Linked DNA regions of Homo sapiens. The protein of the gene in region 2 interacts with the protein of the main gene of each other region in a pairwise test. Each region holds a gene or a part of one and is shown on either strand. Other genes may lie near its edges. The genes, in order: CASP6, RNF10, HIP1, LAMP2, COQ8A, PRPF40A and UBE2E3.

What was found.
Region 1: the proteins of RNF10 (region 2) and CASP6 interact in binary tests that used the Homo sapiens proteins (3 or more experiments, as listed by UniProt).
Region 3: the proteins of RNF10 (region 2) and HIP1 interact in binary tests that used the Homo sapiens proteins (3 or more experiments, as listed by UniProt).
Region 4: the proteins of RNF10 (region 2) and LAMP2 interact in binary tests that used the Homo sapiens proteins (3 or more experiments, as listed by UniProt).
Region 5: the proteins of RNF10 (region 2) and COQ8A interact in binary tests that used the Homo sapiens proteins (3 or more experiments, as listed by UniProt).
Region 6: the proteins of RNF10 (region 2) and PRPF40A interact in binary tests that used the Homo sapiens proteins (3 or more experiments, as listed by UniProt).
Region 7: the proteins of RNF10 (region 2) and UBE2E3 interact in binary tests that used the Homo sapiens proteins (3 or more experiments, as listed by UniProt).

The regions. Positions count from the first base shown.
Region 1 is NC_000004.12:109,696,384-109,700,754, forward strand, and holds part of CASP6 (caspase-6 isoform alpha precursor), read right to left. Parts: intron 1,960-4,371; coding exon 1,917-1,959; intron 1,386-1,916; coding exon 1,239-1,385; intron 104-1,238; coding exon 27-103; intron 1-26.
Region 2 is NC_000012.12:120,554,329-120,558,699, reverse strand, and holds part of RNF10 (E3 ubiquitin-protein ligase RNF10), read right to left. Parts: intron 3,983-4,371; coding exon 3,892-3,982; intron 1,419-3,891; coding exon 1,234-1,418; intron 1,155-1,233; coding exon 1,018-1,154; intron 1-1,017. UniProt on the Homo sapiens protein: E3 ubiquitin-protein ligase that catalyzes monoubiquitination of 40S ribosomal proteins RPS2/us5 and RPS3/us3 in response to ribosome stalling.
Region 3 is NC_000007.14:75,732,076-75,736,446, forward strand, and holds part of HIP1 (huntingtin-interacting protein 1), read right to left. Parts: intron 1-4,371. UniProt on the Homo sapiens protein: Plays a role in clathrin-mediated endocytosis and trafficking. Involved in regulating AMPA receptor trafficking in the central nervous system in an NMDA-dependent manner. Regulates presynaptic nerve terminal activity.
Region 4 is NC_000023.11:120,427,602-120,431,296, reverse strand, and holds part of LAMP2 (lysosome-associated membrane glycoprotein 2 isoform A precursor), read left to right. Parts: 3' UTR 1-2,670; coding exon of another isoform or gene 2,671-2,813; 3' UTR 2,814-3,695. UniProt on the Homo sapiens protein: Lysosomal membrane glycoprotein which plays an important role in lysosome biogenesis, lysosomal pH regulation and autophagy.
Region 5 is NC_000001.11:226,984,612-226,988,233, reverse strand, and holds the end of COQ8A (atypical kinase COQ8A, mitochondrial), read right to left. Parts: coding exon 3,579-3,622; intron 3,359-3,578; coding exon 3,293-3,358; intron 2,981-3,292; coding exon 2,894-2,980; intron 1,782-2,893; coding exon 1,497-1,781; 3' UTR 690-1,496; downstream 1-689. UniProt on the Homo sapiens protein: Atypical kinase involved in the biosynthesis of coenzyme Q, also named ubiquinone, an essential lipid-soluble electron transporter for aerobic cellular respiration.
Region 6 is NC_000002.12:152,658,061-152,662,431, forward strand, and holds part of PRPF40A (pre-mRNA-processing factor 40 homolog A), read right to left. Parts: intron 1,297-4,371; coding exon 1,210-1,296; intron 1,130-1,209; coding exon 1,033-1,129; intron 950-1,032; coding exon 888-949; intron 1-887.
Region 7 is NC_000002.12:181,053,292-181,057,662, reverse strand, and holds part of UBE2E3 (ubiquitin-conjugating enzyme E2 E3), read right to left. Parts: intron 1-4,371. UniProt on the Homo sapiens protein: Accepts ubiquitin from the E1 complex and catalyzes its covalent attachment to other proteins. In vitro catalyzes 'Lys-11'- and 'Lys-48'-, as well as 'Lys-63'-linked polyubiquitination.

The DNA.
Region 1 (4,371 bases), on a different chromosome or scaffold from region 2:
AACTATATGATAGCAAAACTACCTACCCTCATGAATTTTGAGCAGTAGTTCTTCTGCTTTAAGATCATTAAAGCATTTCACTTCAAATCCTAGATCTGAAAACCTAGTGGTATATTAAATGAAATGTTAGCCTATAAACTTTTCAAAGTTGTCAAATACCCTTACTTTGGAAGAATCTATACACATTTTAACGACACATAAATTTGCTTTCTTTAGGAGAAAAGAAATGAAATATAACAATGGTGGTTTTCCCTTCATTCACCATGGTCGGAAAGGATTTAATCATAATGACAGCCGATTCAATTTAGAGTGTTGTTGTCTACTATGCAAATGTTAGTACAAATGCAAAAGCCTGTCAACATTTAATAGAACAGAGTAAGGAAAATAACTCAGGCAAGTTTTTTTTTTTTTTTTTTTTTTGAGACAGAGGCTCACTCTGTCGCCCAGGCTGGAGTGCAGTGGCTTGATCTTGGCTCACTGCAAGCTCCGCCTCCTGGCTTCATGCCATTCTCCTGCCTCAGCCTCCCGAGTAGCTGGGACTACAGGCTCCCACCACCACGCCCGGCTAATTTTTTGTATTTTTTAGGAGAGACAGGGTTTCACCATGTTAGCCAGGATGGTCTCAATCTCCTGACCTTATGATCCACCCGCCTCAGCCTCCCAAAGTGCCGGGATTACAGGAGTGAGCCACCATGCCCGGCCAACTCAGGCAAGTTCTTAAGGGAGGCTGCATCAAAGCAAGGCCCATGCTCCAACACTCTTGATCTGTTGTTACCTCATTAGTGTTGACAAGTTATGATAAGTAACTTTTCCCTACATCTAGAAGTCTGGAATTTTTTTAATTTTTAATTTTTTTTAACTTTTCATTTGGAAACATGGAAAAAAATTATTTTATTTTTTATTTTAGAGACAAGGTCTCACTCTGTTGCCCAGCCTGGAGTGCAGTGGCATGATCACAGCTCCGTGCAGCCTTGAACTCCTGGGATCAAGCAATCCTCCCCCTTCAGCCTCCAGAGTAGCTGGGACTACCGCCACCATGCCCAGCTAATTGATTTTTATTTTTTGTAGAGACCAGGTCTCACTCTGTTGCCCAGACTTGTCTCAAACTCCTTGCCTTAAGTGATCCTCCCACCTTGGCTTCCCAAAGTGCTGGGATTACCAGCATGAACCACCACACCTGGCCAAAAGTAATTTTATCACTTAACTGCCTCATCTTGATAGGTAGATAAAACTACTACCTGCGGGTAAGATTGTCTCTATCTGCGCAGGTGCCCCGCCTTTCTGGCAGTGTTAAGTGCCAAAAGAACCTCTCATGATTGAAGATTAAAGCAATTCCTCTCCTCCTGTGGTCCATTTTGTACTTTTCTGCCGGATCAAACATTTCTCTGTTAATGAAAAGTTGAAAAACAATCACTTCAAGTCATATTAAATAATGAGCCCCTCCAAGTTCTAGGTCAACATGTAGATAGAGATCTGAGCTTCCTCCTTGCCAGGCTGATGTTCCATGGGTGTGCTCCAGGAAAGGCCATGCTAATAAGGAAAGTCCTGAAATATCTCTCTGCCAATTGGTAAAGAGCAGCCATGTGCCATCCTGACACATCCCTAACCCTCTGCCTTGATGTCTTTCCCCTGGCCCCCAGGATCCAGCAACCAGGAATAACCACGAGGCTCAGAACCAAGTTCTAGCTCTAGGCTCATGCCATGCCAATTAATATGCATTCTGAACATCACTCCGGGTCCCTCGACAACCAGGGGCAGCACAACCTGCCTATCTACAAATGAGCTCCCCAAAGGCTAAAACTTGGCCTACTCAGTTTTACTTCCTAGCTCCCAGGACCCATTCTTGCTTTGATTTCTGTAGGCTGATCATGACCATCAAAGGAAGAGACCTTTATTAGAAAAGAGCACAGCTTTACCTTTTATAGAAGGCATCTGTTTCTGTCATGTTTTCTTCCCCACCTATTAAAAAAAGTTGATTTTTGTTAATTATTTTTTACTTATGGCAGTAAAATATAGTAGGAACTCCCATCCCCCTTCTGACTCCCAAACTCTTAAGACCCTTCTGTTTTGGTTAGTTTAAAAGCCAAAGTATGTGAAGAAAAGGAAATGAAGGGAAACTGCTTACTAATAAACAAACTATAACAGCTCTATGCTTTCTCACCCCCAACTTGACCTGCAAAATAACAATCTTATAAACAGAAATGGAGAAAATATTACACAAATGCATTCACTGCAAAATATGCCTAGAGTAACAGTTCTGTGATTACGGAGTTGAAATATGAAGTTGCTTTGTTATGCAGAAAATGTTTTTGCACATTTTCTGAAAAAGAATTAAGTCCTACAGGAAAACTGAAATATAGTTTGTGGTTAATGCTGGATTAGCAGTGGTGTAAGCCTGGAAGAGGTAGAAGTTTGGGTGGAGGAAGGGAAGGGCAAGGGCAAAGACTTGGACCTTGGATCTCCTGCATGACACATCTGCATTTCCAACCCTGTAAGGGGAGCCCTCTGCTCTCCATTCTCAACTGGACTCCCTACTCCCTGGACAGCCTTCCACTGAATTCCTCTCTACTCTCTAGAGCAGTGCTATGTCATGGAAGTGTCTGTGATGGTGGAATTGTTCCGTATTTGCACTGTCTCATAAGGTAGCCACTGGCCACATGTGTCTACTGAGCATTTAAATGCAGCTAATGCAACTGAGGAACTCGATTTTATTGTCAATTTAAATGAATTGGCCAGTGGCTTCTACACTGGACAGTGCAAAGTGTGGCATCTTCTACAATAAAGGCCCCATCCACTCATGCATCTGTTTTTACCTGATAGCTCAACAGCTTAGAGGGGAGACAGCAATGAATAAACTGAAATATTAGCAGTATAGCAAGATGCACCCTTCAGTTGAGGAAGAATGACCCTAAAGCATGGACTCTTACCCATCATCTCCTAGCCAAAAGGGTTGGTTCCCCTCTCCTTAGAGATCTCCCCATTACTAGCCCCCATCACCTGATTGATCTAACCTCACTTCTCCTCAAAAAAAATACAAGGTGGGGAATTCAGTTCAAGTCCCTTTTAGCCTATTCCTCCTGGAACTGCCCCAAGCAATGAGACCCAACTAAGACCCCACACTAAGGCATCCTCTGTCTGTACGCCCTAAGTCAGTTTTGCTCAACCTTGGGCATCAGAATTCCTGGTGTGCATGTTAAAATGCAGATTCCTGGATCCTAACTGAGGCAGAATCAGAATCTTGGAGGAAGGAGGTGACAGCTGCATTTTTCACAAAGTGATTTTTACACTAAGGTGTGAGAGCCAAAAGCAACCTCTCCAACTGGTCCTCCCCGCTGCATGGCAGATGAGAAAGCTGTTTAATCCGACCTTTGCCCTAGGTGAGCACAGTAACGAGGTACTTCCTACTCCACACACTGCTCTATGAAGACAGCACAGGGATTTCACTCTTCCCATTTTCAAAAGCTGTCGGAATCTACTGCCTTTTGATAACCTCACCTGCTTATCTTTTAACCAATTAGAGTATAAAGAAACAATAACTTCAAGAAAATTAAATCCATATGTCACAACCATCCTCCTCACATGCCAAAATTCTGCACAACTTGGAAAGCACTCATGTCTCAGTGTCCTCCTCGGTGGCAGCAGGCCAGCGGCTCACCTCCTGTGGCTTCTGCTCCATACTGACTGCTGAGCCGAAGGCGGCTCACAACCTAACTCATGGAAGCTGTGCCAAATGGCTGCTCAGCAAACTAACTCATATCCCTCAGGGTGAAAACACTGGAGATGTATTCTTGCTTGGGTCTTTAAAACTCTTGTTTCTCATATTGCCAAAGAAGTAGCTTCCCAGTTGTTAGCTGACACATTAAAATTAATAACTTAAGATGTGAGTTTGGGTTGTCTCAAATATGCCCTCACATTAGTCAAGACCTACAGGTTTAGGAATGGCTAACTAGTATTAAGTAGCTGCTCAAGAAAATCTGTTTAAAATGACGTTCTGGCCGGGCATAGTGGCAAGCCTATAGTCCCGGTTACCTGGAAGGCCAAGGCAGGAGGATCTCTTGAGCCCAAGAGTTCTAGGACATAGTGTGCTATGACTGCCCCTGTGAATAGTCACCATACTCCAGCCTGGGTAACAGAGCTAGACCCCATCTCTTAATACATTCAGTTTCAAAGTTAACAGATTTGGCAACCTCAGTGAGGGATTTTTTTTTTAAGTTTTTTGTTGTTGTTGTTGTTTGTTAATGCTACGGATGTAGAAAAAAACCTAGGCTCTGGACATCCCAATTCTGATGCTGGCCAGCTGTAACTTACCTTCACTCTCACAAAGTGCACCCTGCATCCTGCAGTACCAGTTAATGACCAGGTCCAGTGGCC
Region 2 (4,371 bases):
CTACTCGGGAGGCTGAGGCACGAGAATCGCTCAAACCCGGGAGGCAGAGGTTGCAGTGAGCCAAGATCATGCCACTGCACTCCAGCCTGGGTGACAGAGCCAGACTCTGTCTCAAAAAAAAATATATATATACATATTATATTATATATCTATAAATAAAATAAAAATAAAATTTATCAGTCTTTTACAGCATCTATCATTTCAGCCTGGTTCAAAAATCCACCCATATCTGAGGATTTTTTTTTAATTAATACACATTTTTAATGTTTTAAGTTGCTAAACATTTAAACAGTCAAAATCACTAGGAAAAAAATATTACACACACACATTTACCACCCAAATGAGAACACACAATCCTTCAGACAGATGCACATCTGAGGATTTATAAAGAAATTGTCCTATATTTTCTTTTAAATAAAAAGGTTAAAACTTTTGGATTTTTTACATTTACTTCTTCAATCTATCTGGAATTAATTTCATGAATGGTATGAAATAGGAATCTAATTTTATTTTTTCCTTAGGGAGAATCAATTGTTTCAATACCATTTATTGAGAAATCTATCTTTTCCCCAGAGACTGAAATGCTATTTTAATCAAATGCTCATTTCTGCATGAAACACAGGGAATACATCTCTGGCATTCATTGTGAGCACTTATCACACTCTTTATCCTAATGGCCAGTCTACCAGTCTGTCTCTTCTATCGGACTACTGAGTTTCTTGACGACAGGCACCAAGACTGGCTGACCACAGAACCTCTAAGATTGGGCACAGTGAAAGACACTATGTAATAAAACCTTGTAAAATGAAAAATTAGGATGTATAGATTAAACAAACTTGAAACCAATAATTAATCTACTCTCTACAAACCCCACCCTAACCTACTGGAATCCTATGACTAATATGAACATGCCAGATGTGCCCTGCCCAAAGGCTTCACTTTCTGATGCTTAGATATATTCAATCACCTTAAAGAATGTACCCAGGATTATTTGTCCCCAAAATTTAAAGAACTCACCTCCTAGATGAATGGGATGGTCTACATTCATCCATTTGGATTTGGGCAAAGCCACCAACACCCCTTTCTCCCTCTTCATCAGCTGCATCGTAATGGTATCACCAACAACATACTGATGTGACTCTGTGGCAACAACACTGAAACATGGACACTCATATGTAGCAGGGCAAGGAGTGAAGAGATTGGGATCTAACTGAGTAAATGTCTCAATCTCACCTCTTGAGATCCTTCTTATGCACAGAACTGTAACAGATGGGACATTTACTCCACGTCTTCTCACTCAGTGAAAGATAGTGCAGGATGCATGCCCAGCAGAAGATGTGTCCACAACGGGTTATCTTGGCTGCAGTAGGTGGATAGAGGCATATTGGGCAAGATGGCACTTCATGGCTACAAATGCGCTGAAACAAAATGCCACCAGAAGGTTCACTGCTTGAAGAACTGATTAGGGACTGTCAAAGTTTTAGGCCTCTCTACTCTCTCATCCGCATCTCTCTCATCTCTATCCCCGTACATCCTTATACTCAACATATCTTTCTAAAATTGTTTACAACGTAGGTACATGTATGATCATTTTTTTCTTTTTTTTTTTTTTTTGAGACGGTCCATCTCCTTGGTTCACGCCATTCTCCTGCCTCAGCCTCTGGAGTAGCTGGGACTACAGGCGCCTGCCACCACGCTCAGCTAATTTTTTAGTAGAGACGGGGTTTCACTGTGTTAGCCAGGATGGTCTTGATCTCCTGACCTTGTGATCCGCCCGCCTCGGCCTCCCAAAGTCCTGGAATTACCGGCGTGAGCCACCGCGCCTGGCTTTGTATGATAGCTCTTTAAGCAAAGCATCAAGGAAACCATAATAACCGTTAAATATAATAAAACTAATACACAACAGGTATGTTGGGGGTTCTACATTAAATAGAAAAAAGTGACAAATCACTATATTCCCATTTATAAAAAAACTTAATATGTATGCATAAAGGCCTAAAAAGGGTCTAGAAGTAATCTACCAGTAACTTCCAACAAAGAACGCATTAAAAAGACTTCATTTTTTTTTAATAAAACTTAAGTTTTTATGCTATGTCATTCTCAGATGATTTTATACATTTTCACAGTAGTGAGAGTTCAAGCTTTTTTTTTTTTTTTTTTTTTTTTTTTGAGACGGAGTCTCACTCTGTCACCCAGGCTGGAGTGCAGTGGCGCCATCTCGGCTCACTGCAAGCTCCATCTCCCGGGTTCACGCCATTCTCCTGCCTCAGCCTCCCAAGTAGCTGTGACTACAGGTACCCGCCACTGCGCCGGGCTAATTTTTTTTTTTAGTAGAGACGGGGTTTCACCGTGTTAGCCAGGATGGTCTCGATCTCCTGACCCCGTGATCCGCCCGCCTCAGCCTCCCAAAGTGCTGGGATTATAGGCGTGAGCCACCGCGCCCGGCGAGAGTTCAAGCTTTAAGGTCAAAAGCCCCTGCTCATAAAGAAAAAGTGCCCATCATTTTGAAATTATTATTCTTCAACAGATACCCTACTAGGACCAACAAGGGGATACCTAGAGTTTATAACTTCAGTAGAAAACACATCAGTGGCTTTGAAAGTGCAACTGAAGCTGGGCGTGGTGGCTCACGCCTGTAATCCCAACACTTTGGGAGGCCGAGACAGGTTGATCACTTGAAGCTGGGAGTTTGAGACAAGCCTGGACAACACGGTGGAACCCCGTCTCTAATGAAAATACAAAAATTAGCCAGGCATAGTGGTGCACGCCTGTAATCCCAGCTACTCAGGAGGCTGAGGCATGAGAATTGCTTGAACCCAAGAGGTGGAGGTTACAGTGAGCCAACATCGCGCCACTGCACTCCAGCTGGGGCGACAGAGCAAGACTGTCTCAAAAAAAAAAAGAGGCCAGGTACGATGGCTCATGCCTGTAATCCCACCACTTTGGGAGGCCAAGTCGGGAGGATCACCTGAGGTCAGGAATTCAAGACCAGCCTGACCAACATGGAGAAACCCCATCTCTACTAAAAAAAAATACAAAAAAAAATTAGCTGGGAGTGGTGGTGCGTGCCTGTAGTCCCAGTTACTCGGGAGGCTGAGGCAGGAGAATCGCTTGAACCTGGCAGGCAGAGGTTGCAGTGAGCCAAGATTGCACCACTGTACTCCAGCCTGGGCAACAAGAGCGAAACTCCGTCTCAAAAAAAAAAAAAAGTACAACTGGGCCAGATAGAGTGGCTCACGCCTGTAACCCCAACACTTTGGGAGGCCAAGGTGGGTGGATCACTTGCAGTCAGGAGTTCAAAAACAGCCTGGCCAACAAGGTGAAACCCCGTCTCTACTAAAAATACAAAAATTAGCCAGGCGTGGTGGCGGGTGCCTGTAATCCCAGCTACTCAGGAGGCTGAGGCATGAGAATTGCTTGAACCCTGGAGGCAGAGGTTGCAGTGAGCCAAGATCACACCACTGTACTCCAGCCTGGGCAACAGAGTGAGACTCTTTCTCAAAAAAGAAAAGTACAACTGTGTGGCTCATTCATGTGCCTCCCTGCCACAAGGCTGAGGCCTACTTTGATAGTGATTGCTACGAATGGCTGCCAATGAAGCAATGGCCCTGTAATGAGCCCAACCCAGATCAGGAGGGTAAGGGGTTACTACTTCCCAGCTTACACATCTTCAGATCAGAGCCTTTCATACACCATCCCTACAGGCCAGAGCCAATTAGTCACAAAATGGACTCCAGGAAGAACCAGGAACTGACCTCTGGGAAACATCTATAGAAAGGCCAGGCAGAAAAGGGTATCAAGCAGTGCACACAGCCAACAGCTGCTGCGTCACCACAGTGCCTTTATTTAGTGCTCCCATTCATAGCTTATGGGCTTGGCTGAGCTACTCACCACTTGTTCCACAAAGTCCCAGTTAACTAATGTATCAGGATCAGCAAAATGAGCTGTGTAGTCTTGGTCTTCAGACACCACAAATTGGCAGCTAGAAATAGGAAAGACAGGAAAAAGCTAGACTGTCAGGATCTACCAATAAACCCTCAGCAGAAATTGTCATCTATTCACTTAGAAATCAAATGCAGGCCATTAGCAGCCCTGGTTCATGAGGCACTGCACTAGGACCTCAGCCTCAGTTCTGAGCTCCAGCTCTGGAAAGAACCCAAAGACTCAGCAGGCAGAAGTCTAAATCCATGAACTGTTTTCTTCTGCTTCAAGTCCAGCCAAATTCCCCAAAGGCATCCCTTGAACTAAAATTAACCTAGACCGTGACTCCATCAAACAGCAGTAAGCCAGATTTCCTCTCTCACCCCTTAGAACCCCAGAAAATGGCTAGTCTTCAAGGCAGTTGAAAAGACTGTTCTCGGCCAGGCACAG
Region 3 (4,371 bases), on a different chromosome or scaffold from region 2:
AACGTAAACATGAAAAAAAGGACTTTGCCATTTGGTTGTGAAGTCCTGGCTTCTCGGTTCACTCGCTGTGTGACCTTGGACAAGTCACTTAGCCTCTCTGAGCCTGAGCTATTAAAATGAAATCATAGATATAAATCACCCAGCATGTTCCTGGTACCCAGCAGGCCCTCAATAAATATTTGTTTCTATCTCTTTCTCTCTAGGATCTAAGGCTCTTCTCAACGCAGGATGCATTAAGATCCTTTGCTCTGACGTATGCGCTATCCACCGACTTTTTTTGTTTGTTTCTGGCTTTTTTTGTGTTGTTTTTCCTTTTACAGGGTCTGGCTCTGTCACCCAGTCTGGAGTGCAGTGGTGTGATCACGGCTCACTGCCGCCTCAACTTCCTGGGCTTAAACAATCGTCCTGTCTCTGCCTGCCGAGTAGCTGGGACTACAGGCAGCACCACCATGCCCAGCTAATTATTTGATTTGATTTGATTTTTTTGTAGAGACAGGGTCTCGCTATGTTGCCCAGGCTGGTCTCGAACTCCTGGGCTCAAGCCATCCTCCCGCCTCAGCCTCCCAAAATGCTGGGATGATAAACATGAGCCACTGCGCCCGGCTCACCCAAAGAGATTTTGACTCTCTAAAGGTTTGTTCCCCACTCTGTGTCTTTTCCTCTAATCCCAGAACTCACCTACTACAGAGCACTGTTGCTCAAACATCAGCGTACACAGAGTACCCAGGGCTGTGGTGAACACGACAAGTCCTGATTCAGTAGTTCTGGGTGGTGCCCAACATCCTAATGGCCCTGGTGATGCTGGTGTTTCGGGGCCTGACCACATCAGAGCCCCAAGGCTTGTCCAGGAGCCCCGCAGTGGCCAGTCTGCCTCCCTGCTGACTCACGAGCCCCCCAGAGCCGGTCTCTTTATCTTACTCATCTCTGTGTCTCCTCCACGGTATGTGCTCACTAAACGGATGTTGAAGAAATAAACAAACCATGGAGAAAACCATTTTCCAGCTAAGTAAAAACAGACTATTTTATTTGTCCTGTGATTGACAGCCCTCCTGGCTGATTCCAGAATTGCCCTCTTGGCTGGTGGGAGGACAGTGTGGTCGAACGGGCCTGACACTTGGAACCTGGAGTCCTGGTTTTGAATCCTGGCCCTTCCACTCACCCGTGGGATGACCCTGGGCACGTTACCAAGCTCTTTGAGTCACGATGTCCTCATCCATAAAATGAAAATGATAATGACTGACCACCGTGTGGTCCCAATGATGGCTAGAAACATGCTTTATAAACTGTAAAGTACTCCTGATAAGGTCTCCTTATTACGGCTGGGTTTTCTTTTCTTTTCCTTTCTTTTCTTTTTCTTTTTTTTTTTTTTTTGAGGGCAGGCAGTACTTTTCACTTCCCTAAAGCTTGAAAGTGGCTTGTGATGGATTGGGTGGGGAACACACCAAGGGTCTGGTTGGAGATGGGTGCAGTGGCTGGGCCATGAGGCAGGTCAGTGGTGCCTCCTCTGGCAGTGACAGTGGCCAGGTGAAATGTGAGGATGGTGCAGGAGAGTTGAGGAGGCAAGGCTTCCTGGAGGAGGCTGGCAGGAGTAGGTATGCAAGGCTGGTCTGAGGGTATAGACGCCAGGACAGAAGAAGGCAGGCAGAGCAGTGAGAGTCTTTTGATGGGCATGTGGCCAGGCTCTAGACTGGGTATGCGGGAGGCAAGGCTAGACCAACAGCGACCCTGGAGCATTATAAGAAAACAAGTAATTATAGGCCGGGCACGGCGGCTCACACCTGTAATCCCAACACTTTGGGAAGCCAAGGCGGGAGGACTGCTTGAGCCCAGGAGTTCAAGACCAGCCTGGGCAACACAGCAAGACCCCATCTCTACAAAAAAAATTCTAGGCCAGGAACGATGGCTTATACCTGTAATCCCAGCACTTTGGGAGGCTGAGGCAGGCGGCTCACCTGAGGTCAGGAGTTCGAGGCCAGCCTGGTCAACAAGTGAGACCCTGTCTCTACTAAAAATACAAAAAATTAGCCGGGCGTGGTGGCGCTCGCCTGTAATCCCAGCTACTCGAGAGGCCGAGGCAGGAGAATCACTTGAACCCAGGAGGCGAAGGTTGTAGTGAACCGAGATGGCGCCACTGCACTCCAGCCTGAGCAACAGAGTGAGACTCTGTCTCAAATAAATAAATAAATAAATAAATAAATAAATAAATAAATAAATTTTAAAGATCAGCTAAGCATGGTGGCATGCTCCTGTAGTCCCAGCACTCAGGAGGCTAAGGCAGGAGGATCACTTGAGCCCAGGAGTCCCAGGCAAAACTGAGCTATGATGGTGCCACTGCACTCCAGACTGGACAATAGAGCGAGACCATCTCTTACATAAAAATAAATAAAGTAATTATTAATATATCCTGTGGCCCAGGGCTGAACTACCCACCTAGGCCCAGGGTTCCCTTGCTGACCCCATTCACCACTAACCATGAGCTTCAGGATGCAGGCAAGAGCAAGACACAGACCTGCCCTCAATAAGCTCAGTGTTCAATGGGGGCCACAGAGAGAAATGATGCCAGCACAAGGTCACAGGAACTAGGAGAGGTCACCAGCCCTGCTATAGTTCAGAGGAGGGAGTGGCCAATTTTGCCTCTCTGTCTACCCCAGCCAATGAGTCTCCACTGCACCCGCTGGGAAGTTTATCTGCCTAGTCTAGATGTCTCTTTATTTATGTTCTTCTGTCACTGGAATGCCCCATCCCCTCCTCCACCCAGCAAGCACTAACTCATGCTACAAGATGTGCTTCAGTCCTCGGGGAGGGCTCCCAACCCCAAAGCCTGTGCTTTATCCACGTGCTCTTGGTAATTATCCCATTACCTAGTACCACATCTATCCCTCTAAGGAAGAGTTAATCACAGCCTGCTTGATTGCTCACACTTCTGCTGTCTCGGGTTCGTCTCCCCAGTCAGATTATAACAATAATCACTGAACTAGTGCTCCACAGTTTACAAAATGCCTTCAGGCATATTGGGCTTAATTGAATCCCCACAATAAATCAGCCAGGTAAGTATTATGTTTATTTGACAATAAGGAAACCGAGGCTTAGAAAGGTTAGACAACTTCCCAGAGACCACAAGGCCCATGTACATGCCCAGCTGTAAGCCTCAAATGCCTTCTAACTCCAATGCCAGCATCTGCTCAGTACTCAGAGGCTGCCTGAGGCAGTGGGTAAAGGTTGAGACCGTTTCCAGCTGTGTGACTTCTGGTGAGTTACTTAACCTCTCTGTGCCTCAATCGTCCTGAGAGTAAAATGTGGCTGATACCCACCTCATCCGTTCTTGTCAAGATTTAAAAAGGTAATACAATGATGTCCTTAGAATACTGCCAAACACAATAATTAGTTAGTTATTATTATACCTTGGCTGATTCTCATGGTCTCCTAACTCATTAAATTTTTTCTAATTCATTTTTTATATCTCATAATACATTCTTCCCCTTTTTTCCCTTTGCTTACCAAGCTCTGCAACCTCATAATACATTTGATAGGTAGTCATTAAACAAAATAATTTTTTTGCAGATTGACTAACGTTGGGTTTAGGGCTGTTCTCTTTTCTTTTCTTTTCTTTTTCTTTTTCTTTTTTTTTTATTTGAGATGGGGTCTCACTCTGTTGCCCAGGCCGGAATGCAGTGGCACAATCTTTGCTCACTGCAACCTCTGCCTCCCGGGCTCAAGCAATCCTCCCACCTCAACCTCCAAAGTTACTGGGACAACAGGCACGTGATACCACAACCAGCTAATTTTATTTTTTGTAGAGATGGGGTCTTACTATGTTGTCCAGGCTGGTTCTTTTTCTTTACTCTCCTACACCCCTAAAGAGTTTCAACACCAGAGGCTGGGTGCAGTGGCTCACACCTGAAATCCCAGCACTTTGGGAGGCTGAGGTGGGAAGATCGCTTGAGGCTAGTTCAAGACCAGCCTGGGAAAACACAGTGAGACCTCCGTCTTAAAAAAAAAAAAAGTTAAAAATAAGAGTTTCAACATCAGAAAAATTCTCTTTTTCTGCTCCACTCTACTTCACCCCCACCCACCCCACCCAGGTCAAATCTGGCCAATCACAAATGTCCCACAGAATGTAAAACACCAGAAAACACTGACCTAGACTCTCCTGTTGGGCCGTCCCTGGATAGCAGGGAAACATACCACTCACGGGTGGAAACTTTCACAAACCTAATTTCTATCACTATTATGGGTCAAAGTCTTACGCATATTTCTCTATTGCTCTAGTTTTTACTTATTTGAGACTCTAGAAGGAACGGGTTGTTAAAAAATAATATCTATTTATTTTCTTATTTCATTTATTAAAAAAAAAAATAGGGCTGGGTGCCA
Region 4 (3,695 bases), on a different chromosome or scaffold from region 2:
AAATACATGCAAATAACAAGATTTTCTTACCTCTCAGTTGTTGAAACACTTTGCTTCTTAAAATTGATATGTTGAAACTTTAATTCTTTTATCAATCCCAGCATTTTGAGATCAGTCTTTATTAATAAAACCTGTTCTCTTTAATCAGCTTAAAATCCAAAGTGTCATATTTACTGGTCCTGGAGACAAACTTGTTCAAAAGAACATCAACGTGCAATGTTTTAAGGTCTATCTTAAGAAGCCCTGGCCAAATTTTGATCCTAACCTTGAAGTATGCCTTGAACTTATTAACATGGCCATTATAAGAATAAAATATGTAGTTGTGTCTTAATGGAATTAATAAATGTCATTTCACTACTGGTGTTCTGTTTCAATGTATAAGGACTATAGTGATTTAAACTCATCAATGTGCCTTTGCATAAAGTTCATTAAATAAATATTGATGTGGTATAAATGCCCATCAGATATGCTTAAACTTGGTTTTCAGTTGAATGAAGTAGAGAATGTCCTCAGGACCATCAGCATTTTAAAGGTTATGTGACTTTTGCTGATTTCTCTGAGTTCAAGTTAAGCATGAAGTTAGTACCTCAAGCCTGTGATTTTTCCCTAGGGATGATACAGACCCAAGAGGCTACAACAGAACTTAAACTGGCTTCGTAATTAGAGTTTTTAAGATAATTGTTTGTTTTTCAGCAATATAGACTGAAAAGATCCAAGCATATTTAGCCACTTGCTTTTTTGTTTCTTGTTTTGTTCTTCTTTGGATGCCTGATTAGTATTGAAAGATAGAAATATTCTATGAACTAATTAGGACAGATTGTGTTGTGTTTCTCTACCTCATCTTGTTGATCTCTGGAGCATTAAAATCTATTTAGTGTTGTCATCAGTGTGGTACTTATGAAATGTAAGCTAACAGCAATCTCAGAAGGGAGGCAGTGAAGCATAGCAACTAGGCTCTTGTTTCTTCAAGATGGCCCCTGTGGGGCAGTGCATAGATGGGGGTGTAAAGAGAAGCTGTTGGCATTAAAATGAGCTAGATAATCAGCCCTTGTTGAAGCATATTCCATGGTATAAGAGTAGCACAGACATGAAACATAGATAAAGAAGGAAGGCTTAATAGACTAGAAGACTTCCACATTGAAGTATTATTAACCCATTGTATGTATATAGGGGCATGATCAGAGTCTCTATAACTTCCTGATTAACAATACAGTGTATCTTGTTACCCAGCTGTCAGTCTTTGAGAGCTTTCAGTAAAATATAGTAAATTCTTTCAGCATAGGCTAATGTGTGGTTACTGAGATGAGTGTTGTGTACTCAGAACCGTAGCAACATTTTTATGAATGGTAAAAGTACAAGAGGAGGAAAAGTTAAAATTAGAAGAAAAGTACAAGTTATTGCTTAATCATAAATCACACCAGATAACACATTTTGTTAATTTCATTAGCTATTACTGGAAAGGACCTTAACGATTATTTACAGAAAGGGGAGTGAAATTCATTGAGGTTCCATATCAAGTGGGCAACAAAACTATTACTAGCATTTTGATAAAAATTGCCCCTAATGAAATCTAGTCACTCAACAGTAAAACAACAGCTGGTTTACACTTGAAATTATGAGATCAGAATTGGGCACTTTGGGCTTCCGTACTATGTTTTGCTTAAGTTTTTTTTTTAATACTAATATGGGCTTTTTCAGTAGTAATATACCAAAACACTTCTATTTTAATCTCTGTTTGCTACTTCAAAACCTAATCCTCCTCAGATGGGATCATGAGCATAAGAGGAAAAGAGAAGAGAATGAATACTTGTTGACCTCTTGATGTGTATCAGATGCTTTAGAAATGTAATTGTATTTAATCCTCAAATACCTTATAGGTATTATTATCCCCTTCTTACAGATGAGGAAAGTGAGGCCCAGTTTAAATAACTTGCCCAAGGTCCTTTGGCTAGTACTGGAAGGAGTCAAGATTTAAACACAGTTCTGTCTGAATCCAGAACTCAAAATCTACATTGCACATGTTGCTTTCCTGGTGGTTCGGTGGAATGGACTGCAACGCATTAGATACTGCTGTTATTCTTCCAGGCCACCGCTCAGCTAAAAATAATTGTGTGTGTGTGTATATATATATATATGTACACACACACACATATATATACACACACACATATATATACACATATACATATATATACACATATATATACACACACATATATATGTATATATATACTACATTCTTGATCCTAAGTCTTTTTTAACTTAAATTTTATTACTTATACAGAATTCTTATTTATACTTTAATTATAGGTGTGACGAAGAGAAAGAGAGTAGGGAAATACACAGGCAGTGGTTTTAAGTGTAGATGATGGCTCCTTAACCCAGTGTCATTAGATAATCAAACCTAAAGTCTTCCCATATTAGGCAAGCGCAATTCTCTATTTTGGACCCTTCCCATTCTTCCCTTACCTTCTGCTTTTCGTACTGAGGAATTTCGTGTGATTTTAGATAAAGTGATAATGAGATATTGAGCAAATAAGAAAATAGAGGTAATGCTATAAAAAACTAAGCTATGTACACTTTCAAAATGCATGTTTCTTGCATGCTTTTTACTACTTAATTGCATTCTTTGCTAATTTCCTTTCCTTGCTGTCTGTTCTTTTCTAACAGCTGAAGAATGTTCTGCTGACTCTGACCTCAACTTTCTTATTCCTGTTGCAGTGGGTGTGGCCTTGGGCTTCCTTATAATTGTTGTCTTTATCTCTTATATGATTGGAAGAAGGAAAAGTCGTACTGGTTATCAGTCTGTGTAATCAGTTAAATCTAGTGTTTGTTTGTTTTTTTCAATTAGAAGTTACGTTTCCATTGGCTAAAAGCCAGGACATGCTGTGCAATAGATTGTTTAAGATATGCAGACTAACTTCAGTGAGTTCCTAGCTAACTTGGGCATGAGTACACTTATTTAAGACAAAATATATTAGGACCAATTTTTTTCTGTTTTTTTTCTTCCTTTGTTAAAGTATAATTAAAAGAAAAATTGTGGCTTAGAATTTTTTAAGTAAATAATGATTTTAAGCCCCTGGATCCAATTATGAAAGCATTTTTGCTGATGTGTAATTTTATATGTTACAGTTACTTATATTTTACTACTTTGATGTTATTTGCAAAATCAAAGGTGTTAAAGAATTTAACTTGCTTCAGGAAATAAATTCAAGAACATAGTGGATTCATTTTCATTGGTGGCAGACACGAAATTTGGTTCATGATAAGACTTCCTTTCCCCACCTCCTGATCAGCATTATTTAAATCTGTATTTTTCTGTTAGTTAAGAAAGAAATGGCTTCATGATATTGTATTTAATAGCAAAAGTTTGGCTGTCTTCTTCATTACTGTTAATAGCTACTATATTTTAACAAGGAGATTTCTTTTTTTGTTGTTGTTGTTCTAGAGTTTGGAATATACTGATTATCTCAGACTTGACATTTATACTGAAGGATGAAGTAAGACCTCCAGCTTTTTTTAAAAAAGGTGTTGATTTGGAACACCTGTATGGGTTATGGTTTATTAAGGTTATGGTTTAGAAAGTTTTTTTCCCTCAGAGCCTTAACTTGTTAAGAAGGTTCATTTATCCTGCACTGAAAACAAAAACTCTATATACTTTGTTTGTGTGCCTCCTGCACTCTCCCATTCCCTAT
Region 5 (3,622 bases), on a different chromosome or scaffold from region 2:
TGGTGCTGGGCGCCGCTGCTAGCCAGGCAGCCTCACGGACGCCACCCAGGCCTCTCCATCCTGTCCCGGAGCCCACTGGGTCTGCTACTCGGCAATCCCAAATTTCAGAAACTATATTTTCTTTCTTTAAGAACCCTGAAAGCCTATACCTCTCAAAGCCTCTTTTGGGCCTGTGCATTCTGCAGATGCACTTTCAACTGCTCACAGGTCCGTAGAAAGGGCCCCAGCTCAGTGTCCAGTGTGTCCTGTTATCTAGGAATCAGTCTGGCCCCAGGAAAAGCCACTTTTCAGGACGTGGTCCTCAACTGCAGCTGATGTCTAGAGAGGAGACGTCTCACTGTGATGCAGACCTGGCATCAGCCGTGCTGGCAGGTGTCACTGTCCTCCCAGTTGCCACCATCACCAGGTACAGCAGCTTCAGCAGTGTGGTACAGCCTCCCGGGGGCTGGGGCAGTGACACCGCAACCTCTCCTCCTGTTCTCCACCCCTCCCACCTCCCTTCTTACAGGGAACGGGGCTGAGCCTTCCAGGTTCAGGGCCAAGGGCCTCACGCTGAACCAGTCCCAACCCTTGCAAATGGGCTGTGACACTGAACCTGCTGACCGTCAGGTCAGAAAAGAACCACCACCACGAGCTAGAAGATACGGGTCGTCATTCTCCAGAATACAGAAGAGGGTACACGCGCCAAAGCACTTCCCATGAGCATTTTTATTAAATTGAAACAAGTTGTTGATTCGATAATTACAAGACTTGTACAAAAATTCACAGCGCCTGTGAGGAGCCTTTGGCTGGAACTGGTGACACCTGTGCCTCTCCGGACAGAGGAAGGAAGTCCCACCCCGCCTTCCAGCAGCAGCGAGCCTGTGTCTGGCATTCCCTGTTCCGCTGCTCCCACCCTCACTGTGGGGCAGCAGTTCTTTAGGAACATTCAGCTGTCAAAGGTGAGAACCAGCCCCACAGGCCTGGGCCTCGCAGGCTTAAGGAGCACTTGTTGGCACTGTTAGCTCAGCACCTCTCCCAGCTCCAGCCCATCGGCTGGAGAGGAAAAGGGCAGAAAACACAAATCTCACTCTAGAAACACATACACACACCTACTACACAGATGATAAAATCCCACAATCGTATCTGTTCATGTTTCTGGGTTTTGCACTGAACAGAGATTGGAAGGGAGTAAGGACTCTCTCCCTTCTGCTTAACATTCACATCAGGAAAAAGAAGAAAACAAAGTTGCCCTTTCATCTTCATCTGCTTATTTCAGAGGACACACGGAGGCAGACTGACCGAGCAGTGGGGCTTCATCTTCATTCTTGCACTTCTCACCCTACAACCATTTAGCAACAGAAACCGTGGAAAGCGCTGGCTACGGGGCTCCAGGCAGCCACCCCCCTTATTGGGCAAAGGAGTTAAAAAGAGCATCACCACGACCTCGCTACTGGTTTTTGGCCTGTCTGAGGGAGAGAGTTCCCGCGGAGCCGGCCTGGGCGTGGCCCGCAGCCCTACTGCTGGGCCTGCCTCTTGCAGTAGTTGCTGTAGGCCTCCTCGAACATGGCCTTGCAGGGGAAGCGGGCCTTCAGCTTGGAGCAGATGAGGAAGGAGCCCCCCATCTTCCTGTGCAGGGAGTAGGTTTCCTCGGGTGGGGGGACGAGACGGTGCCTCAGCATGACGGGAATCAGGTTGTGGATCTTCTCGGTGGTGCTCTGAGTGCCAAAATCAAAAGGCTCATCAGAGGCGAAGGCCTCCCCCAGGATGAGGATGGCATCCAAGTGGGCGTCTTCCATGACCTGGGGCAAGAGAGGAAGGATAAATGGCGGCGAGACACCAGAGCCCTCCACCAGCCCGGGTTCCTCCCACAGTGCCCGGGGCGCTGAGTTCTCATTCAAAGCTCTGCTGTAAACTGGATTACATCATGGTAATGGGCATAAACTCAAACCCACAGGGGCCGGGAACACGAGGGTAACATGGACTGGGCTGATGTGATACAAAAGGGAGTGGCGGGGCCTGTGGCAGAGTGCAGAGGATGCGTCCCGCCTCGTGGCACTCATACAGAGTTTTAACAAAACACTGTTCTGGCCAAAAAGAACAGAGTCCGTGGGCCTAAGCTGGCAGGGCCTCCCACCATGCGTGTCTGAGCCTGCCAGAGTCCACCCAAGACACACCCAGCAGCCGTGTGTCTGCCCACGGGAACTAGCAACCTAAGGAAGCCGCCGCCAGCAGAGCAGGGGAGAGGAGCTGCCGCCAGGGACAGCCCAAGGTGGTCAGAGGGACGGGGCGGCCAGGAATCGAGTCAGTGCGAGTGGCCATAAGGAAGAGGCGGGAGAGAGCTGCTGCCCGCTGAGCGCTTACAGCTGAGATAAGGGGGGCTCAGAGATACTGACAAGCCTCAAATGACACTCCTATGAGACGGCAGACCCAAGGCTTGACCTGGATTTCTTTAACTCCTTCCCCACTGTCAAGCAGCAAGCGGAAAATGCCACTTTGTGGGTGGCTTCAGGCGGCACCAGCACAGACCGTTCCCCTTTATTTAAAAGGCTTCTAAGGTTTCTTCCAACTCCCCCCAGGGAGGCTCGATGAGGGGAGGGCTGGGGCTTCCCTTCCCACTTGCTCTGCACGTTGGCTCAATCGAGGCCCAACCCCAAGCCCTAAGTGGGCAAGAGTGAGAGGCAGAAACAAGAGCTTCACGACAAGTCCCCAACTCACTGGCCCACTCGGAAAATCTCACGCTCAGCAGGGCAGCATGGGCCGGGGTGGGCCCCAGCTTTCAGACCGTGCCCAAGGAGGCCCGGGCTCTGGGGGCCCCTTGAGGGCAGCTGCCCCCTGTGCTTTCATCCATTCTTACACAGGGAGCCGGGCCCTGGGTCAGCAGGCCCAGGGGATCCCCCGCAACCCTGCTCACCTTGACCTCGTAGCCGGTGAGGAACTTCATCTCTATGGATTTCGCCCGCACAGTCTCCCTGTCCCTGTCGGCAGCAGCCCTGATGATCTGGGGAGAGGCACAGGAGGGGACCGTGGGCAGCATGAAAAGCTCAGCTCCCGACATCCCAGGGAGCCAAGTGCCACACCCGAGCCCACCCCACCCTCATCCTCTCCCTGCACAGGGCCCCCGGCCAGTGCTGTGACACCACGCCTGGCAGCTGTCAGCCTAACTGCCTGCTGTCACCAGACCTGAGGGGCAGGCAGCGCAGATGGGGACACAAGGGCAGGAACCCAGTCATTCTCCCTACCCCGAGTCCCCCAGCATCCTGTCCCAGCCTCAGAAAAACATGGACCAAGGCCAGGGCCCCTCTCCAGTTACCTGAATGTAGAGGTCGGTGAAGGATCTGTCATATTCCCGCGTTGCCCCAAAATCCAAAAGAGCCACCTGGGGACAGAGACACCAGGAGAAGTTTGGCCCTGGTGCTCCATGGTGCGGGTGTGTGGGGCCGGGAAGGGGGTGCAACAGAGGGCAGTGAGGATCCCCACTCCCAGAGCCCTGAGCTCTCTGCTGACTTTCCCAGGACAAGGGGCAGTCCAGGGCCTCACGTGCCCCATTCGGAGAAGCTCTCAGGCCTGGCTGCGGGTGCCCCCACCCTGGGGCTCACCTTGTGCTGCTGGGGGTCATAGAAGAAGTTGGACCAGTTGGGGT
Region 6 (4,371 bases), on a different chromosome or scaffold from region 2:
ATACCATTGTTATATAGGTAATATTTAAGAACATCTATGTGTAACAGGTTATGTGCTCTTAGAGAGATGAAATAAAATGTGAATTGTTAACCTCAAGGATTTAGTAAAATTTACCCAAGATTCATGGGGACAGCTTTCCCTTGGGAAGGATAATATTCTGAAGGATAAAATACCACTCATGAGACTTACTACCACATAATAGATGTGTAGTATCTATTATGTAAATACAGACAGATACTACATTTCTCACCAACTCAATATAATATTGGTTTATATATGTACATAGTATACTGCTGTTAGCTTTAACACATAAGGCAGACAGCTGTATTAATAAAATTATTTTCTTGAAATTGCTGAGTAGGAATTATTTAAAATTTAACGTTAGTGCTTAAATGGTTATTCATTAGATATGCACAAATTCAAATAAAAAGAATGTAATTCAACAGGTCTGTGGTGATACCCAGGCCTTCAGATTTTCAAAAAGTTCCTTAGGTGGATCTTAATGTACACCTAAGAATAAGAACTGCAAGAGTAGAGTGGTTGTTTTAACATTTAAACTTGTGGTTCTCAACAACAGCTGCAATCTACACATACACACAAACATACATACATACACAGAGACACATGCACACACACGAGTCTCTTTCTAGAATATTAATTTTAAAGACCAGGATGGGGATCCTAACACTGGTGTGTGTATTTTTTCAAAGCTCAACAATTGATTTTAATGGAAGATTAAGGTGAAGAGCAACAACAAAACTCTAAGTTTATGTGCCCACCTGAACTGTCCTGGGCTGCAGAGAACTAGATAGAAAAAGGTTCTATGATCTCTGAGGAAGTTAAGGGCAAAAGCCTAGGTGAAACGTAAAAATTAGAAGCTTGCTTACAGATTTATGTCTCCTCTTCTTACTTTTCTTCTTATGCTTTTTTGACTTTTTATAACTTCTCTCTGAGTAGCACAAAAGGATAAAAAGTGTCAGACTTTGAGTATATCAGTGTCAATGATTTAATCAAATAAATAGAAATGCTCACCAGACTCTGCACTAGAAGAATGTTCTGAAGCAGAACGAGACTCTGATCGCTGTCTTTTTTTCTTTGAATGGCTATCATCATCATCTGAATCTGACCCCTAAAAAACACAAATAATTTCATTCATAATAATGCTAACACTTTAATACACTCATGACACCATATAATAAATTCCCTTACCGATCGAGAGCGGGAACGTTTCCTATGATGTTTTTTAGATTTCTTAGAATGTTTCTTGTTCTTTGAATGATGATGCTGACATTCATGCTACGGGGACAAAAAAAAAATTTCAAGAATTTACACTTACTGTAGACAGACTGTAAAGAATCTTTAAAAAGCTACGGAAGTAAGTTCTTAGAGTAAAACTCTACAATATATAGAAATGTAATCCCTTGAAACTGTGAAGAATTGTCAATTTTTTTTTCTTTTCCTTCTTGCCCATCCTATACCCACTCATTTAGACATCTAAACAAAACAATGTTAAAAACTGTTAGTAGAAAAAGTAGGGCTTTTTTTGTTTTTGTTTTTTTTTGAGACGAAGTCTCGCTCTGTCACCCTGGTTGGAGTGCAGTGGTGCGATTTTGGCTCAATGCAACCTCCGCTTCCCAGGTTCAAGCAATTCTCCTGCCTCAGCCTCCCAAGTAGCTGGGATTACAGGTGCACACCACCACGCCCAGCTAATTTTTGCATTTTTGGTAGAGGCAGGGTTTCACCGTGTTGGCCAGCCTGGTCTCAAACTCCTGACCTCAGGTGATCCACCCGCCTTGGCCTCTCAAAGTGCTGGGATTACAGCCATGAGCCACTGCACCCAGCTGAAAAAGTTTTTGTTTGTTTGTTTTTTTGAGATGGAGTCTCACTCTGTCACCCAGGCTGGAGTGCAGTGGCGTGATCTAAGCTCACTGCAAGCTCCGCCTCCCGGGTTCACGCCATTCTCCTGCCTCAGCCTCCCGAGTAGCTGGGACTACAGGCGCCTGCCACCATGCCCGGCTAATTTTTTGTATTTTTAGTAGAGATGGGGTTTCACCATGTTAGCCAGGATGGTCTCGATCTCCTGACCTTGTGATCCGCCCACCTCGGCCTCCCAAATGCTGGGATTACAGGCGTGAGCCACTGTGCCCAGCCTGAAAAAGTATTTTTTAAGGAAGAGAATGGTGTGATTTAGAAGAAAAGTGTAATATGCAGTGACATCTGCTTTTAATGACAGTCAAATACAATGACACTCAGACATGGTTTTTGTAATCAATCTGGCTTTGGTCAGCAAGTTAGGCCAAGCACTAAGATAAAGAACAACCTGAGAGCCATCCTTGAATTGAGATATATAAGGCTGATGTCAGAATAAATGCAAAATCTGCTACCCCTCTTTCATTTCCCCCAAGGAGCCATTTCCTTCCTCCTCAAACAAGACATTGTTAGACATCCATATGCTGTCTTTGTGGATTTCTACTTATTAAAACAATTACTAGGTTAGCAGTGATGGGGGGTGCTACAGTACAAGCTCCTTGCCCCTAAACATTTCTATGGCTTTGAGAATAAATTCTACCTCAGTTACAGAAGTGGAAATGGAAAATCTGGATCTCAGAATGGACTATTCTCCTTTTGATCTCACTGAATGCTAACCTACCTTTCTTTAATACCTCAAGCCTCAGATTATTAAGGCCCCAAAATCTGAATGTGTTCAGCCCTTCCCTATGGTACCATTTTTACTCCATTTACCACCTAACTACTTTACCCCCAGTATAGATCATGAAAGAATCTGTAGACTCTTGAACTGGGGGAAAATAGGTTAGTCACTATCTAGAGCAGAGCTTCTCAAAATTAAATGTATATTTTAATGCTTGGGAATCTGGTTAAAATGAAGTCAGACGCAGGATTTCTGCCCCATGGGGCCTAAGGTTCTGCATTCCTAAGAAGCTCCTAGGTAATGCAGATGCTTCTGGTATGCACTACATTTGGCACAGAAAAGATCTAGAGGCCCAGCATGGTTGCTCACACCTATAATCACAGTACTTCAGGAGGCCAAGGCAGGAGACTTGCTTGAGGTCAGCTTGCCCAACACAGCAAGATCCCATCTTTATAAAAACAAAAACCAAAAAAGCCCCACAAAAAGCCAAGTGTGATGGCACGTGCCTGCAGTTCCAGCTACTTAGGAGGATTGTTTGAATCCAACAGTTCAAGGTTGCAGTGACCCATAACTGCACCGCTGCACTCTGGCCTAGGAGTGGATGGATGACAGAGACCCCGCTTTAAAAAAAAAAAAAAAAAGGCCAACAGGACCACATCTAGAGGCAGCTGTGAAACAATACAGGGCCTTCGTGAGTACATGGTACAGAAAAAACTGTGGTTAACATTATATTAATCAAGAACAATAAATCAAGAAATAGGAAATAGTCAATTTAGTGACCTATGCCCATTTACAATGCAACACTGTAATATTAAGCACCTACTAGTTTTTAGCTTATAAAGTATTAGCTACTCTAAAACTGACAGCATGGCATACTTGTTAAAAGCACTGACCAAGGTCAACATGCCCGGCTTCCAACCCTGTAAGTCACTTTACTTCTCTCTGCCTTAGTTTGTTCACCTATTAACTTCACAGGCTTATTGAAAGGATTCAGTTCATAAATATAATATACATAAAGCAATTAGAACACTGGCCCACATAGGCATCGAATACTATTATTCAATAATTATTGGTCAATTCAGCATACTTACAAGGGCCTAACTGAAACTGTCATCAAAATACTTTTTTTTTTTTTTTTTTTTTGGGGAAGGAGTCCCGCTCTGTTGCCCAGGCTGGAGTGCAGTGGCATGATCTTGGCTCACTGCAACCTCCGCCTCCTGGGTTCAAGCAATTCTCTTGCCTCAGCCTCCTGAGTGGCTGGGATTACAGGTGCCCGCCACCACTCCCTGATAATTTTTTTGTATTTTTAGTAGAGACAGGATTTCGCCATGTTGGCCAGGCTGGTTTCAAACTCCTGACCTCAGGTGATCAGCACACACCTTGGCCTCCCAAAGTGCTTGTTTTACAGGCGTGAGCCACCGTGCCCAGTGAACCTTACCTATTAAAGTGACCTGAGATGTTATTGTTTCATTGCTTATTTTAACAAAAACTTACCATTTATTCCATTACTTTCCAGAAACTTTCTTTTCTACACAGCTAATGTGGTATAATACCTCAAATGTGCCTAAAAGCTGTCTTCTATCTGCTTTACAAGAAAAATTTCAAGTTTTCTTTATTAGTCAATCAATCCATGTGGCTGCCAAACTGCTCAATTTCTAAAACTTTCTAAAAATACAAAACAGTCTTCACATACAAATCTTTATATTCCCATGGAAACTTAA
Region 7 (4,371 bases), on a different chromosome or scaffold from region 2:
ACATATATTAGCAATGAATGTTAATATCCTAAAACCAGGGAAGTGTTAAAGGTAAATTAGCAATCTAGAGCAATAAGAAGTAAAATAAGTATAAAAGAAATAAGCCCCAATGTGTTTGCATGTGCATGTGTGTATGAACTTACTTGGAAATATTACAAACTTACAGAGGAAATGCAAGAAAAGTACAAAGAAAATTGGTATAACTTTACCCAGTCTCCATTAGCATTCTGCTCTGCCCCATTTGCTCCTCTCTCTCCCGAAACACACACCCCTCTAAACCTGCAAGCATGCATAGAGACATACTTTTTTCTGAGTCACCTGAAAGTTGCACACGGCCTTTTCCCCATAAACATGTCAGTGTGCATTTCCTAAAAACAATCTCCTATAAATTACAATACAGTTACAATTTCAGTAAATACATTAATACAATTCTTTAAAGTACAATTTGTATTATAATGTTGTCAACTGATTCGGTAATACCCTTTTAAAAAATTAATTTTTCTCCGATGCAGGACCCAGTCTTGGAACCACGTTATTTCCTGTGTCTTTATTCTCCTTTAATATGGGTCCTTTCCGCCTTTCTTTAACTTTTATAACATTAACGTTTTTTGCAGAATCTAGTCTTCTTTTTTAAAAAATGCTCATCATTTTGAGCTTGCCATGTTTCCTCATGATTTGATTCATGTAACGCATTTCTGGCTGAAATAGTAGGTGTCTGGCTGAAATAGTATGTGTCCTTCTCATGGTATCACATTTGGAGGCACACAGCACCTACCTGTACCTCATTGGTGATGTTAAGTTTCATCATCCAGACAAACTGCTATCCAATTTTCCTACTGCTTAGTTACTATCTTTTCCCTGCAACCAATAAGCAATATTTGGACAGACACTTCAAGACCAGGCAAATATCCTGCTTCTTATCAAAATTTCTTCCCAAGATTTAGCATCCATTTGTGATTGCTATGGTTTGATCTGTCCCTGCTAAAACTCAAGTTGAAATCTGACCCCCAAACGCGGCAATGTTGGGAAGTGTCTGGGTCAGAGGGGTAGATCCCTCATGAATAAATTAATGCCCTCCCTCAGGGGTGAGTCCTCACTCTAGCAAGAATGAATTAGTTCCCAAGAGAACTCATTGTTAAAAAGAGTGGCTTTCCTTGGTTTCTCTCTCTTGCTTCCTCTTGCTTTGTGATCTCTTTGCACTTGATGCCTGCCTTTCCACTGTGAGTTGAAGCAGCCTGAGGCCCTCAACAGATGCAGATGCCCATCAGGTGAACCAAATAAACCTCTTTTCCTTATAACCTACTCAGTCTCAGGTATTCTGTTACAGCAATAAAATCATGATTTTCCAATTCTAGAACTTTCTCTACACTTAACAGTTACCCCTTGAGCCTCTTCTCCTGCCTGTACGTATGTACAGAAGTATTACTGGTATGGTCTCATTTTTTCCCAATGCTTTATAAGTCATTACTGACTTTAATTATTTTGATACCCAAATTATTGCAGATTTGGCTGATGGGGAACCCTTTCAAAATGACTCCTATATCCTTGCAACATGTTAGCATCTTTTTTTTTTTTTTTTTTAAGCATTTCCTTCCTTTGGCATAAGGAATCCCATCCTTGGAATCAAACATTTTTCCAAAGAGCCAGGGTTCCTTTCAGTGCGAATGTTGTAAGAAAAACCAAGATCTGAGTCCTAGGTGCTACTAAGTCTTAGTTACATTTTGGTGCACTGCGCTTAACACACCATTACTTTATAAAATACAAACAAGAGAGATAGTTCAAATAAAATCTAAACTCATAATTACTTGTTGGTAAGACGACTCATACGCCTTAAACTCTCCTCAAATATATTTTACTGCCAGTTGATAGAAGAGCTTGGATTCCCACACCAAATTCTTAGTTCTTAAATGTGCTCTCTTCCCACTTATCATGCTATTTGCCATCGGACAAAGTGTACATTTAACTATAGGACAAAGTGTACATTTAACTATTGCAGGATAGTAAATAACTTTTCCTATTGTCTTGGAGTAGACTAAGCAGAGAAGCTATGGTAGTATGATTACTTTGCTGTACCCAAAGACACCTAGTTTAGGACAAGTGAAGGCTAAAATCCAGTCCTAAAATCCAGGTAGTGTTGGCTACCTGTCTGGATTAGGGGCCTCTTTTCATTCTCATAAATGTACCATCTGTTAGTCAAAACATACGGCAAGATGGGAAGGGGTCAGGAAGGGACATGAGCAGTTGCAGGGCTGAGTCCACTGTAATTTAAACAAATCATATTAGAGGCTAGCAACTGACCGACACTCTCTGTCTCTTCCACTGTCTTGAATCATCATCCATTTTTCCTTCTCTGGTGAGTGATGCCAATAAGAATCCAACAATGCCCTTTCTCCCAACTTTATTATTATTTTTTAAAATCTCTATTTCTCTCTCCCTTCGAGTTTCCATCTCAATCATCTTTCCTTGACAGCAAAACTCCTTGGAAATCTTATCTACATCTGCTATCTTCAGTTTCTCTCCTCTGTTGTTACTTGAACTCATTCCCAACAGGCATTTCCTCCCATTACTCCACTGAAACAGCTCTTATCCAAAGTCACCAATGACCTCATCACTACACCCAATGATCATTTCTCAATCTTCATATTATTTGACTGGTCCAGCAACATTTGACACAGCCAATCACATCCTCCTTGATACACTTTCTCTTTCATTCCTAGAATAACATACTTTGTTAGCTTTCCTACATTTCCTGGCCCCTCGTTCTCACTCTCTATTCCTATTCCTTATCACCCTAAGCTTTAAATATCACCAGTCCTCCAGAGCTAAGACCTTACACTCTTCTCTTTTCTACCTACATATACTGTTTTGGTTATCTTATGCAGTTTTACGGCTCCCAATACCACCAATATGCTCTTAACTTCCAAATCTGTAACTGCAGCCTAGATTTTTTTTGCTCTGCAAGACAATGTCAAGAGAACAAGGCAGGCAACAGTCTTGGAGAAAATATTTGCAAAAGATGTACCTGATAAAGAACTGTTATCAAAAATATACGATGAACCATTAAAACTAAAGAAAATGAACAACCTGATTATAAAATGGGTGAAATACCTGAACAGATACCTCACACCAAAGATAAACAGATGGCAAGTAAGCGTATGAAAAACTGTTCAAACTCATGTCATTAGGGAATTTCAAGTTAAAACAAGAAAAGCATGCCACTACACACCTATTAGAATGGCCCAAATCCAAAACACCAACAACAAATGCTGAAGAAAATGTGGAGTAACAGGAACTCTCATCCATTGCTAGTGGAGAATACAAAATGGTACAGGAAATGCAAAATATCTAGATTCATTTTTATGCATCTGGATGTCCACTTTGGAAGACAGTTTGGCAATCTTGTTACAAACATAAACATATCTTACCATAAGATCCAGTAATCACACTCCTGGGTATTTACTCAAATGAACTGAAAACTTATGTCCACACAAAATTCTGCATGCAGATGTGAATAGCAGCTTGATTCATAACTGCCAAATCTTGAAGGTGATCAAGATGTTACTTCAGTAGGTGAATGGATATATAAACTGTGGTACCTCCAGACAACGAAATATTATTCGGTGCTAAAAAGAAATGAGCTATCAAGCCATGAAAAGATATGGATGAAACTTAAATGCATATTAGTAAGTGGGAGAACCCAATATGAAAAGGCTACATACTGTATGACTCCATCTATATGACATTCTGGAGGCAAAACTACAGAAACAGTAAAAATATCAGTGGTTGCCAGGGGTTAGTGGGGTGGAAGGGATGAAGAGGCACAGCACGGAGGATCTGTAAGGGAGTGAACTTTTCTGTATGGTATGAATGGCGGATATGTCACTATATATGTGTAAAAATCCATAAAATGTACAACATCAAGAGTGAACCCATATGAAAACTAGGGACTTTGCATGATAATGATGTGTTAATGTAGGTTTATCGATTGGAATGTAACAACTATACCACTGTAGTGTGGGACAATAATAGCAGGGGTGGTTGTGTGTCTGTGCAGGGGCAGAGATACAAGGGGTTTTCACTCAATTTTGCTATGAACCTAAAACTGCCCAGAAAAAGCTATTAATTTAAAAAATACAAATAAATTTTAGAACAAGCAAATATTTATATATTAAAATAAGAGGTCAATGTTTCTGTAAGTAATGGTTTATAAAAAGAGTTACTAACTTTTATAAACGAGTATGTTCCAAAAATTTGTTCTGAAATCAGGTATTTTGGAACTTGAAACACATTTGGACCATAGAACTAAGGTGGTTTAAATCCTGGTCCACAAAATTTATTTAAACTATTTCTTCTATAATATTAAATAAGGTA